Linked DNA regions of Homo sapiens. The protein of the gene in region 4 purifies or fractionates together with the protein of the main gene of each other region. This does not show direct contact. Each region holds a gene or a part of one and is shown on either strand. Other genes may lie near its edges.

What was found.
Region 1: the proteins of ZSCAN20 (region 4) and EVPL purify together in Homo sapiens (affinity purification with mass spectrometry; 3 studies listed by BioGRID and IntAct, with this or other methods). This does not show direct contact.
Region 2: the proteins of ZSCAN20 (region 4) and ADNP purify together in Homo sapiens (affinity purification with mass spectrometry; 3 studies listed by BioGRID and IntAct, with this or other methods). This does not show direct contact.
Region 3: the proteins of ZSCAN20 (region 4) and PGBD1 purify together in Homo sapiens (affinity purification with mass spectrometry; 3 studies listed by BioGRID and IntAct, with this or other methods). This does not show direct contact.

The regions. Positions count from the first base shown.
Region 1 is NC_000017.11:76,010,307-76,013,806, forward strand, and holds part of EVPL (envoplakin), read right to left. Parts: intron 1,784-3,500; coding exon 1,700-1,783; intron 1,577-1,699; coding exon 1,466-1,576; intron 1,363-1,465; coding exon 1,270-1,362; intron 238-1,269; coding exon 1-237. UniProt on the Homo sapiens protein: Component of the cornified envelope of keratinocytes. May link the cornified envelope to desmosomes and intermediate filaments.
Region 2 is NC_000020.11:50,888,418-50,890,927, forward strand, and holds the end of ADNP (activity-dependent neuroprotector homeobox protein), read right to left. Parts: 3' UTR 501-2,510; downstream 1-500.
Region 3 is NC_000006.12:28,295,072-28,298,571, reverse strand, and holds part of PGBD1 (piggyBac transposable element-derived protein 1), read right to left. Parts: intron 1,757-3,500; coding exon 1,627-1,756; intron 1,186-1,626; exon of another isoform or gene 1,049-1,185; intron 678-1,048; coding exon 581-677; intron 1-580.
Region 4 is NC_000001.11:33,499,394-33,502,143, reverse strand, and holds the end of ZSCAN20 (zinc finger and SCAN domain-containing protein 20), read right to left. Parts: 3' UTR 501-2,750; downstream 1-500. UniProt on the Homo sapiens protein: May be involved in transcriptional regulation.

The DNA of each region.
Region 1 (3,500 bases), on a different chromosome or scaffold from region 4:
GGGGTCCCGGTAGAACTCTACCACTTCCTTCTCCTCCAGCCTCTCCAAGGGCCGCTGGGTCCTCAGCTGCAGCAGTTGGCTCCTCTGCGCCTCCAGCTCATGCTGCACCCGGGCCACCCGCTTCCTCTCCTCTTCCAGCTGGGCCTTCAGGGCCTCTGACTCTCTCCCTGCTTGGGCAGGGCTCTCGGAGCCCTGCTTTGCATCATGGGTCCTTCGGATGTCCTCACTGAGCTCCTTCTGCAGAGAGGAAGAAGGGTAGAGCACGGGGTGGGCGGTAGAGATAGGAGCTCCATGTTTTTCCTGAGATGAAAGACCCCTCCCTGTTTCCTGAGACTCCCCAGTGGGTCCTCAGAGGTGGAGCTGAAGACCTAAGATGCTTGGATATAGGATTTTGAGAAGACCCAGTCAATGCAATGATTTTAGGACCCAAGGCAGTGCGCAGGCCTGGTTTGCATTAGAAAGTGCAAGTAAGGGCCAGGTGCAATGGCTGATGCCTTTAATCCCAACACTTTGGGAGGCCAAGGTGGGCGGATCACCTGAGGTCAGGAGTTCGAGACCAGCCTGATCAACATAGTGAAACCCCATCTCTACTAAAAATCCAAAAAATTAGCTGGGCGTGGTGACGCATGCCTGTAATCCCAGTTACTCAGGAGGCCGAGGCAGGAGAATCGCTTGAACCAGGGAGGCGGAGGTTGCAGTGAGCTGAGATTGTGCCACTGCACTCCAGCCTTGGTGATAGAGCGAGACTCCGTCTCAAAAAAAACAAAAAACAAAAAAAAAGTGCAAACAGGACAGGTTCTCCCTGTCCCTCCAGAACCTCTCCCTTTTCCCCTTCCATCCAGGGACCCTGACTGTGGCCGAGGGTAACAGAAAAGCTGGCAAGTCACCAGGAGTCCTGGAGAAGTTCTGGCTTGAGGGTGTGTAGGCCGAAGGTGGAGAGCCAGGTGGCTGAGGGTGAAGCTCTAGGGGATTTTCTCTGCTCTCTGGGGTTAGAGGTCTTGTCCCATTGGAGGATGCCCAGTGGCCATGAATGCCATCTCCAGGGCCTAACCCTGGGATGGACACCAGCCTGTAAGAGCTGCTGGAGAGAAAACTGGGTGGCTGGAATCCGCTCCCCTCTCCAGCAGCCAGAGCTGCCCAGGGGCTGCAGGCAGGAGGGAGAGGAGGGAAGGAGACTACCAGGGTGACAGCCTGGCATTTTGGGAATGGAGTGGGCATTCCTGGTTATTCCTGGCTATTGTGGGAAAGCTGTAGGTGTTGTCTGTGTACCTTCTCCAGCATTTTTCTAGCAAACTCCAGCTGCTGGAGCAGCTGCTGCTGTGCTGCTGCAACCTCAGTATAGGCCTTTGCAAGGTTCTTCTCCTGGAGAAGGCAGAGGGAGAGGGGAAGGGCAGAGTCAGCTCCTGCCTTGGACCCTACAGAGCTGGTGTCAAGGTCCACTGAGCCCCGCAAGGTCCCATCTCACCTGGGCTTGGATGCTCTCTTGCAGGGGAGCCACTCGGGGTCTCTTGGGGGCTGACACTGCCAGGGTGGGCTCCAAAGAGCAGCGGTAGGTGTCTGCCTGGAGCTCATAGTCCTGAGCAGGGAGGAAAGGACAGCAGGCTGGCAACCAGTGGGGGAGGCTGGGTGTGGGGGATAGGGCTGGAAGAGGGACAAGGGTGATGCATGGAGAGGGGCAAGCTGAAGGCAAGCTGCTTACCTGGAGCGCTGCCTGCAGGGCCTGGGAGAGGTGGGATGCTGTGGCCCTGTCCCGCTCTCGGCTCTGGATCTCCTGCGTCAGCCTCTGCCAGGGAAGAACCCAGAGTCAGGAGGCCAGGAAATGCCAATCACCCTGACTCTCCTCTAGCCAGTGCCTCCAGGGCCACAGTCAGGCAGAGCTGCCTCCCAGGGACAAGAAAGGGCAGGGAGGGAGACCTGGGCCAAACTCCCTCCTTTCCCTGACATCATTCTCTCTGCTTTTCCTCCTTCCTCTCCGAGGCACCTTGGCAGAATCCCTTTCTTTCCTTTTTTTTTTTTTTGAGACCAAGTCTCACTCTGTCACCCAGGTTGGAGTGCGTGATCTCGGCTCACAGCAGCCTCCTGGGTTCAAGCGATTTTCATGCCTCAGCTTCCTGAGTAGCTGGAATGACAGGTGCCTGCCACCATGCCAGGCTAATTTTTATATTTTTAGTAGAGATGGGGTTTCGCCATGTTGGCAAGGCTGGTCTCGAACTCCTGACCTCAGGTGATCCGCCAGCCTCGGCCTCCCAAAGTGCTGGGATTACAGGCATGAGCCACCTTTCTTTGGCCTTGTGCCCCTCAGAGTTCCGTTCTAGCACAGTAGTATCTGCGAGCATCACCTGGGGCCTGTGGGAGGCAGGCAGGCATGCAGGGCCCACCTGCACATCAGATCCAGCAGGTCCGGGTGGCCCTGAGAATTCATATTTCTTTCTTTTCTTTTTTTTTTTTTTTTTTTTGAGACGGAGTCTTGCTCTGTCGCCCAGGCTGGAGTGCAGTGGCGCTATCCGGACTCACTGCAAGCTCCGCCTCCTGGATTCACACCATTCTCCTGCCTCAGCCTCTCGAGTAGCCGGGACTACAGGTGCCCAGCACCGTGCCCGGCTAATTTTTTGTATTTTTAGTAGAGATGGGGTTTCACCGTGTTAGCCAGGATGGTCTCGATCTCCTGACCTTGTGATCCGCCCGCCTTGGCCTCCCAAAGTGCTGGGATTACAGGCGTGAGCCACCGCGCCCGGCCTGAGAATTCATATTTCTGATAAGTCCCCAGGTGATGCTGCTACAGCTCATCCAGAACCATGGCTCCAATTGGAAAGTTCTCAATACGGGATGCCCACTTTTATTCACCTGGGAACTTAATATACTGATGCTCTGACCACAATAATCCAACTTATTTGGTCTGGGGAGGGGTCCTGGCCTGGGGATGTTTTAAAAGCTCTCTGGGAGATTCTAGTTTGCAGCCAGGGCTGAGAATCTCTGTCCCAGGCCCCCTTCCCAATGTCACCTCCCTACTCTCTCCCCAGATATTCTCATTTTCCGGCAGTCCCAGACCCATCTTTGCTCTCACGAGCTCCTAGGGGAACCCCCAGCCCCAGTTCCCTCCCATATGCCTACGTCCACCTCCCCGCTGCCCTCGGCTGTCCTGGCCACCTCATTTCAGCATGACCCAGCCGGCCCCATTCCTCTCCCCAAATATGCTCTGTTTCCTGTGTTCCCGCCTCAAGTGGAGGTGCCCCCTCTTCCCAGTTGTCCCCAACAGAACCCTGGGCATCACCGGGCCCCGTCCATCTCACTCACTGTCCCCTTCAAGCAGTCACCAAGTCCACCTAATTCTGCCATCTCCATCTCAGATCTGCCCACCTCGCCCTGTGCCATGGTCCCTTCCCCGGCCAGGCCACCACTCTCTCTCCGCTGGATTTCCACCCTGGCTCCTCGTGGGCCTCCGTGTCTTCATTCCCACCCTCTTAGTCATTCTCTACATGGCAGCCAGAGCCAGCTTCTAA
Region 2 (2,510 bases), on a different chromosome or scaffold from region 4:
TCTCATCTCGAGGACTCAGTACTAGTAGTCTGAGGTCTAAGTAGTAAAGGAACTACACTTCTGTATGGTAGTACTTATTTGGCAATAAGCAGGTTTGTTTCTAGCGTGAAGCATCTCAGATGGGAAACTCCCATCTTTAATACATCGCAGTTTTCAAATTTGGCACTCATTTTGTTCATGCCAGAAATGGATGTTACAAAGGAGTAGGCATTGGGATCAAACTGACATACAACTCTAGAGCGATATGAGGCATAGATACCCTTTCTGCTTGAATTGCAAGAGGGAATGAAGCTGTTTGATAAAGATTCTCCTCTCCCTATACAATGACAAGGAACCAAAGATAGGATGAGAAAATGCTCTATGTGATGAACAGGGAAAGAAGCCACAGTCCTAGCTTGTCTGAGTGAACTCATTCCCACGAGAAAACCTGCAGGGCCAAAAACACGCCTCCCCACCCCCTTCCCCCGACACCCACAAAAACAAAACACACCAAACCTCTGTAGGATACTTAGGTTTTCTCATGTTAGAAGTGTTCAGCCTACATTTACAGGCATTCTCTAATTAGGTGGCAGCACGTTGCCATAGCCAACGATCTCCAGATTATTTGAAAAGCAAACAGTAGCAACAATATTCTTTTAAAATGGCTTTTATTGAGACACTTGTAGGGATTCTGCAACATTTCCAGTTGGGAATCTTTATTTCCAACTCTTAGGGTGGCTAAACCCTTTTCTGAATGCCAAAAGGCACACTCTCACCACCTTAATGAGGAAACACACTTATCTGTGTCTGTTCCGATATCCAACTGGGACCTGGACCCCAAGCCCCGTGGTGTCTTGTACAAGTCTCATTAGTCCTCCACGTACAACTCAGAAGCCTGTTAATCAGGGAGGGTAATTTCCAAATAAATGTGAGCTGGCCTAAATCCAGCTGGTTATTTCTGATTTGGTAATCTGTAGTATCTTAATTTGGGGACATCCTGTCCTAAGTTTTGGCTGGTGCATGTAGAACTTATAATCTACCTGTATAACAACAGATGCAACATAGCTCCGTTCCAGCCCCAAATTCCTTAAAGGTTCTAGTCTACTCTTGCACTTCTTCCTGTACTGTTGTTGAGAAGCTTACATTTTAGGGAGAGGCTGGTCAAATCTCTACTCTCTGGTAACAGCATTAACAAGAGTCTTTCTTTTGGAAACAGACTCAGAAGTTATGGACATCAGCCACTTCAGACTTCTTTAGGCCACTATCCTTGAGGTGACTGACCAGCCTCCTCATGGATTGGAGTTTCCCATCATTGTTTTAATTGCTGGAAATGTTGGCCTAATTCTGCTTCCTTGTAACTTTCTGCTTTTTAGTACAAGTTCTCTTGGGAATCTACGCATGGTAAAAATACCAGCTCCTTCCATCTTTACAGCCCTGTCAGTGCTGTGCTCTTCAAAGCCTTTCCCTTAATAGCAAGAGGGCCAAGAGTGGCAAATAGAGGCAGAGCCGCCTGCACTACAGTTGTTCCCATCGTAAGGTGAAAACGAACGTTTAACTTCATCTAGAAGAAAAAACAAACAAAAAACCCATCAGGCTATTAAGATTCTGCTTGCAAATTAATGCCAATCCATGTTTACATTTTTTTTTTTATCATTGAGACATTTACATATATATGCAGGCTCTGCTCCTTAACAAAAGGTGAACTGAAAAACTCAAGGGTGTTTGTTTTTCAGTTAAAAAAAAAAAAAAAAAAAAAAAAAAAAAAGAAAAACAGATTTTGTACCAGGTGCCTCAAGAGAAAGCATTCTATTTGCAGATGACAGATCTTGGGTTTTCCACAAGTTTCCTCTGTGACTGTGGCTGCCATCTCTGATGAAAGAGTTATGGCATTAAATGGCAAAAGATATAATGGACACACAGGACTGTCATGTGTAATAAAGCAAATATTTACATTAAGCACAATACAGCAATTTATTTAGATGCTTAAAATGAATACAAAGGGAAAATAAAGATCACAAAATTATACATACTACAACAGTGTGTCATATATTAGATGGTATAAATGAATCCACCATGATGGTGTTGAACTAAAGATAAAACTAAATATCCAAAATGCAGCACTCATTGGTTTGCTGCTTCAACACAACACACTTTTATACAGATCTAAAAGGTGTCAAAATTAGTAGCTGCAAAGTCAATTCTTGCATGTGATTTTAGCTTAAAAGATTTCAGAAAACAGATCTGAAATACCAGTTTTTGTTTTTGACAGCTGTAATGTCAAGGATATTCAGAACAAGAAAAATCCTATAATACAAGAGAGTCCAGATATATATCTTACGTGGCTGGCCTCTGTTGCAAGATTGTACAAGGTTATGTGCAAAAACTAAGTCTGTCCAAAAAGTCCATACTAGCGCAGTTTTGAGCTTTTGCTAGGTAAACTAGATAGAGCGTTTATTACACAGCAAGGGCAACACTAAAAAAAGAAATCTATGATGGGCACACAGTAACAGGATCATGAGCATCACTTGAAT
Region 3 (3,500 bases), on a different chromosome or scaffold from region 4:
GAAGATTTTTGAATTTTGGATTTTTTTCAGATTTTGGAATATTTGCATTATACCAGTTGGGCATCCCTAACCAAAGATCCAAAATCCAAAATGCTCCAATGAGCATTTCCTTTGAGCATCATGCTGGTGCTCAAACAGCTCAGATTTTGGAACATTTCAGATTTGGAATGCTCAACCTGTACCCTGCTTGTCCTCTTCCACTCTGACATTTCTTTCTTAACTGTCATGGCAGCTTCATCTGTAGCCCTCATTCTTGTTAAATTATCTGCCTTCTAGCTTCTCCACAGCTCCATAAAAATGTAAGGGAGCCCAGGGAAGGGTAATCAAGCAGGACAGACTGGATCAGGATAGGCTTCTTGGAGGAAACTGAGTATCAACTGAAGGTTTTGTATATTTATTGCATATTGAAAATTTTGAATAGGTCACTTTCTTGGCATGGACCTCCTATGATCACAGAAGTGAGTGGCAGTTGTCATATCTTATTCCAGAGAAGCAGGCCTTTGACCAATTGGTTTCTCTGATTCCATTCCAATTTCTTATATCTGCAGGATTTGATTCACTGAGGACCATGGACACTCACCTGTTGGGCTTTCCTGAGGCTTCTCCACTTTGTTCCATTTCTTCAGAAGTTTCTTGCTTTGCTTTAAACAATCTATCTTTAGTTACAATTTCTTCAGCTAAAATATAACATTAATGATTTAAATGTCATCTGTTATGTGAATTTTGAAAAAAAAAAAAAAAAAAAAAAAAAAAAACTTCCAGGGTAGGGAATAGATGTTCCAAATCAAACAAAAAACAAATCATATTGGTGTTTCAAGGGTGCACAGTTTCAGCAATCCTACAAAATGTGGCATGGTATGGGAAAATGATAAGAAAGGTTAATTAAGGCACCAAAGCCCAGCTGCAGAGAGGGCCCAACAGGGCAGAGCACATTTCAAGAAAATTAGGCTGGGTGCTTTGGGAGGCCAAGGTGGAAGGACTGCTTCAGGCCAGGAGTTCAAGACCAGCCTGGGCAACATAGCGAGACTCCGTGTCTACAAAAAATTACCTGGGTGTAGCCCCAGCTTTTTAGAAGGCTGAGGTGGGAGGATCAGTTGAGCCCAGGAGTTTGAGGCTGCAGTGAACTATCATCGTGCCACTATGCTCCAGCATGGGCAACAAAGCGAGACCCCATCTTTAAAAAAACTAAAAAAAATAAAATAAACATGAACTGTCGTGTTCTTAGAGAGTGAAGATGACCTCCTCTGAGGTAAAGACAAGGTCAGACAGAGGTGTTCATGGGGCTTCCAAGTATGAAGGGATATCTGAAAGACAAGTTATATGGAATCCTTGACAGGGAAGAAAAAAGGGGAAAAGGATACAAAGGAGTCACTGAAGGAATCAGGGAACTAGAAGAGATGATCAGAGAAGATAACCACAACAATCAGTAAACTGATTAGTAACAGAAGAAAATGTGATTGGGAAGGATGCAAAGTGATAAGGGCTAGAAGTCTGGAGGCAGAGGCCAGAAGAAGGGAAAGGAAGGGTGTGGGTCTGTAGGAAACGTGGCCTCCCAAGGGCCAAGCCAGGGTGAGTGACAGGAAAATGAGAGTCCAGACAGGGGTCCAGCCAGAGGCCTGGCCTTACTCATCGGACTGAGGCTCATAACTGTCTCCTGAGCTGAGTTCCCACAGAGGTTCCTCCGAGTCAGACTCAGATGTGACCACTTCTCTGCAGCAACGGCCTGGGCTGTTTCTTCCTCAGTCTTCACCAATGTCTAAAAAGACAAAAAAAGAAAATAGCCTCTTTGTTTTCACATGGTAAGGAATCCAGTTGTGAAGGGTGTTGAATACCACGCTGTAGACCGGTAGTCCCAGCCCCTCAGGGCATTTTGTAAACTTGTGGGAACCTTTCTGGTTATAACAATGAAGTCCACCACCACCTCAAGCCGATGCCATTCAGAGGGTGAGGCCAGAGATGCTAGGCATCTTGAAATATGTGGGACAGTCCCACACTACAAAGAATTCTTCCACATCCTGCAGGACTTTTGAGTGTCCTCCTGAACCAAACCTACAATCAGTATAAATCAGCTACACTGAAACATAGGAAACCTGAAGAGTTTTTATAGGATGATACTGAAAAAAAGTCAGTAATTCAAGAAAGTTAGAGAAGGAAGCTTACATCGATTAAAGACATTGTCACAAAAGTTGACTCACTTGGATTGTTCTACACACTATTTTACAGCATTTTCTATGTATTTGGTTGAACAGCACTTCAATATAATATTGCAGTTATAACAAATGCAATTAAACTGACTACAAATACCTAACAGAGTTTTGAGACTCCTTTTAACAGATTTGGAATCTAATGTAAATGCAGAAATCTCACTGAATTTCATCAACAAAGATTGTTTAAAAACATTTCAAAGCTAGTAATGATATGTAGGCTGGAAAAATCATACACTGAATTTATTTATTTGGGGAACTGTCTGAGATTTTCTATCTCTCTGACACTGTCCCAAAAGGCTACCACATGGTTTCATTAGCCTCTTGATTTTCTCTCATTTTCCAATCTACTTTCTCTTTCTTGTTGCCTGAAAAAGGACACAGTGCCAGTCTTTTAGAGAATGAATATCTGTTTTGACAAGGAGGGGGTTTCAAGACAGAAGATGTTTTCTCTTTAACTCATCATCACCCTATTCCAAACTACAGATAATTATTTTGATAATAAAAGGCAAAGCCCACCTCATTTAAACATAGGCCTACCTCAGAGATATTGCAGGTTCAGTTCCAGACCACCACAATAAGGCAAATATCACAATAAAGCAAGTCACAGAAATTTCTTGGCTTCCGAGTGCATGTGAAAGTCATGTTTACACTATACTATGTAGTCTATTAATCGTACATAAGCATTGTGTCTAAAAAAGTATATATCTTAATTTAAAAATACTTTATTGCTAATACATGCTAATAATCATCTGAGCCTTCAGAGAGTTGTGATCTTTTTGCTGGTAGAGGGGCTTCCTGCGATGTTGAACGATGCTGACTAATCAATGTGGTGGTTGCTGAAGGTTTCGGTGGCTGTGGCAGTTGCTTAAAATAAGACAACAGTAATGTTGGCCACCTTGATTGACTCTTCCTTTCACAAAAGATTTCTGTGTAGCATGCAATGTTGTTTGATAGCATTTTACCCAGAGTAGAACTTCTTTCAAAATTGTAGTCAATCATCTCAAACCTGCTGCTGCTTTATCAACTACGTTTATTTAATATTCTAAATCCTTTGTTGTCATTTCAACAATGCTTCACCAGGAGTAGATTCAATCTCAAACCACTTTCTTTTCTCACCCATAAGAAGTAACTTATCTGTTCAAGTTTTGTCATGAGATTGTAGCAATTCAGTCACATCTTCAGGTTCCACTTCTAATACTAGTCCTTTCCACCACATCTGCAGCTACACTATCCACTGAAGTCCTAAACCTCTCAAAGACAATGATGAGTGTTAGAACCAATTTCTTCCAAACT
Region 4 (2,750 bases):
ATTATCCTTGTGTTATTTGGATTTCAGACACCTCTGGTTTCCTAGCACAGGGATCCTGAGGGACATATCAAAGTAGATGCATAGGGACCAGCAGACTGAGATGCCACTCCTCCCTCCAGGGGGCCCCATGGAACGCAGGGCCCTCACTGGCCCTGGGGACTGGGTGACGTCAGGGGTGAGCCTCTCGTGATTGGCTCCCTCACCCTGCGTAAGATCAAAGGGACAAAAGGACAGCCCCGACACCCGGAGCCACTGTGGCTCCGGCCAGTTGCACCGGCCACTGAGGCCATGGCTCCTGGGGTTGTGGACATGCCTGAAGAGCCACCCATGTCTGAAGGACCACAGGGAACAATGAAAAGAAGACACCTGCCCAGCACAAGGGGCTTGAGACCTTGGCCCCAATCTCCCTGACAACCTGTGTCTCGATGACTTCCCTTCCTTTTCTCCCCCATGCTTTTGGTGTAACCAGGAAGAAGCCAGAAGAATCGAAAACACATTCCTTTTTTGGCAGTTTAATATAATTTATTAACTTATCAGGCCATTCCATCCCAAAATATGATTTGACCAGCTTTAAGAGATGTACATAACAGCACAAAAAAAAAAAAAATAACAGAAAATGGGGAAGTGAAAGCAAAGCCAAATAAAATGAAGCCAGGGATTGGTCCACAAATTGCAAAACAAAAGGGCCTGTTCAGGTTTTAGAATTGGACATTAAATCCCTGAGGCTCCTGATGGACAAAATTTAATCCATTTTAATTTCACAGTCCCTAAGAGGGAATTAAAATCAATTACAAATGTCTCATTTCCATAAATTAGTTGGTCGAGAAAGGTCCCTGGAGATGACACCTGTGCTTCTCCAGGACACACCAACCGGGTTTAGCGTGAGCTCCTGCCCCTACTACTGATGCTGGCGCTCCAGCCTAGCTGGCCTTACCTCTCCATCTATTTCTGGGAAACTTCAGGAACAGGGTTGGGTTGGCGACCTCATACGTGGTCATGAACAAGCCCTTTCCTCTCAAGTGCTGTCCACAGAGGGATTCTCTCCTGCCTTGCCCCCTGGGTGAAGTCTGCAGTGGAGGGTTTCAAAGTGTCTCACCACCACTTCCTGCTGGTCCCCAGTGCCTATAAATATGCGGAAGCTTCTCTGTGGTCCACGAATCCCCCCAAAGCACTGAAGCCAAGTGTGTTCTATGTGGAAGGAGAAGACTCCTTTCTCCTTTGTGCCACATTTGTCACCTGCCACCAAGTTAGGGCTCCCTGAGCCCCAGTGACTCGAGATTCTAGTAGTCACAACTCTGCCAGCCTGGGCCTGTGGCTCCTCTCCTGCTTGGGCTCAGATACATCTGTCATGCTGCTCCAGGACCAGCTTAGAGACTGATTCTTGTTTTCCTGATCCCCCTTCCCGTGGCCCTCGCCCTCTAGGGGGCACAATTTTTATGGGATATTTTTCTACAATGAAAATGTAAAAAAAAAAAAAAAAGTGACTTTAGAAATAAGTATCATGTAATAGCAGGCATGATCAGAAGCATCTTTACACACAAAAAGAATCACCAACAGCGCCCTCATTAGAAAATCAATGTCTATGTGACTCCCTAGTCGACTATAGCATGTTTAGGTAAAATTATCTAATTGTATTCTTCTTTTTACTCTTCTAATGCTCTTGACTTAACCAAGTGGCTCTTAAAACAAAGAAGCTCTCAGCTTTGAGAAGTGGGGGAACCAAACACACACTGAAAAGAACTGGGACCTCTCAAACTCTCTGTCTCTTCCTCCAAGCAGCATAAAATGGGGTTACTGGGGTGCAGGCTCCTGTAGGGTTCCTAACAGAGACTAGGTGAGAGATGCGGCACACGGAGGTGAGGAGAAAGGTCACCCACTCAGCTGCAGCATGGGGTGGGGGAAGCAACAATAAGGTAAGGAAGGAACCTGCCTTTGCCCCCCGAAAACATGCATTTATTTGGAGGTAAGTGCAGGCTTGCTGAAAGTCAGAGGGAGGGCAAAATGATGCTAAAGACATGCTAGCAGTAATAGTGATGCTGGGAGTGTGAAGAAACAGCCAGGAGCTGTGGGGGAAAAGGATCCAGTGTCTACCATCCCAGGCCTCCAGGCCCATTTCAACTCCCTCCTCTCCTGTAAAGCCTTCCCTGCACTCCCACTGCATGGAACACTAACCCCTTGTAGCAGATTGGGGCAGGGGCTTGAGATTGGTGTTTGCTATTAACAGGTGGGGGAGCTGAGCAATGCCCAAATGGAGGATGGGATCAAAACTGAGGTTAAGGGGAGCTTTGGGAGGCTGAGGTGGGAGGATCGCTTGAGGCCAGGAGTTCAAGACCAGCCTGGGCAACACAAGACCCCCATCTCCCCCCCAAAAAAAATGGGGTAAGGGAATATTTTGAATGATTAATTTTGACTTTAGATATTGACTTCATTCAGAAAGAGACCTCTCAGGCAGCTGGGTAACTCCAGCCCAACTGGAAATGCTCTTAGAAGGGAGAAAGTATTGGCAGAACTGAGTCCAAGATGAGTCCAATGGGCAGGTCTCTCCAGGCACGTGCAGGGGAGGCTTGGATGGGAGTCACTGAGTGTGTACATCAATGCACGTGCTGAATGGGCAGGCCAAGAGCCCCATGATGGGTGATGGTAGACACCGGGGCTTTGAGATGCCCAGGAGTCACCCAAGCACAGCTGGTTGGCAGGCAGCTGGGATCCTAAGAGGAGAGGCCACAGCAGGACACAGATCTGGAAGTCAT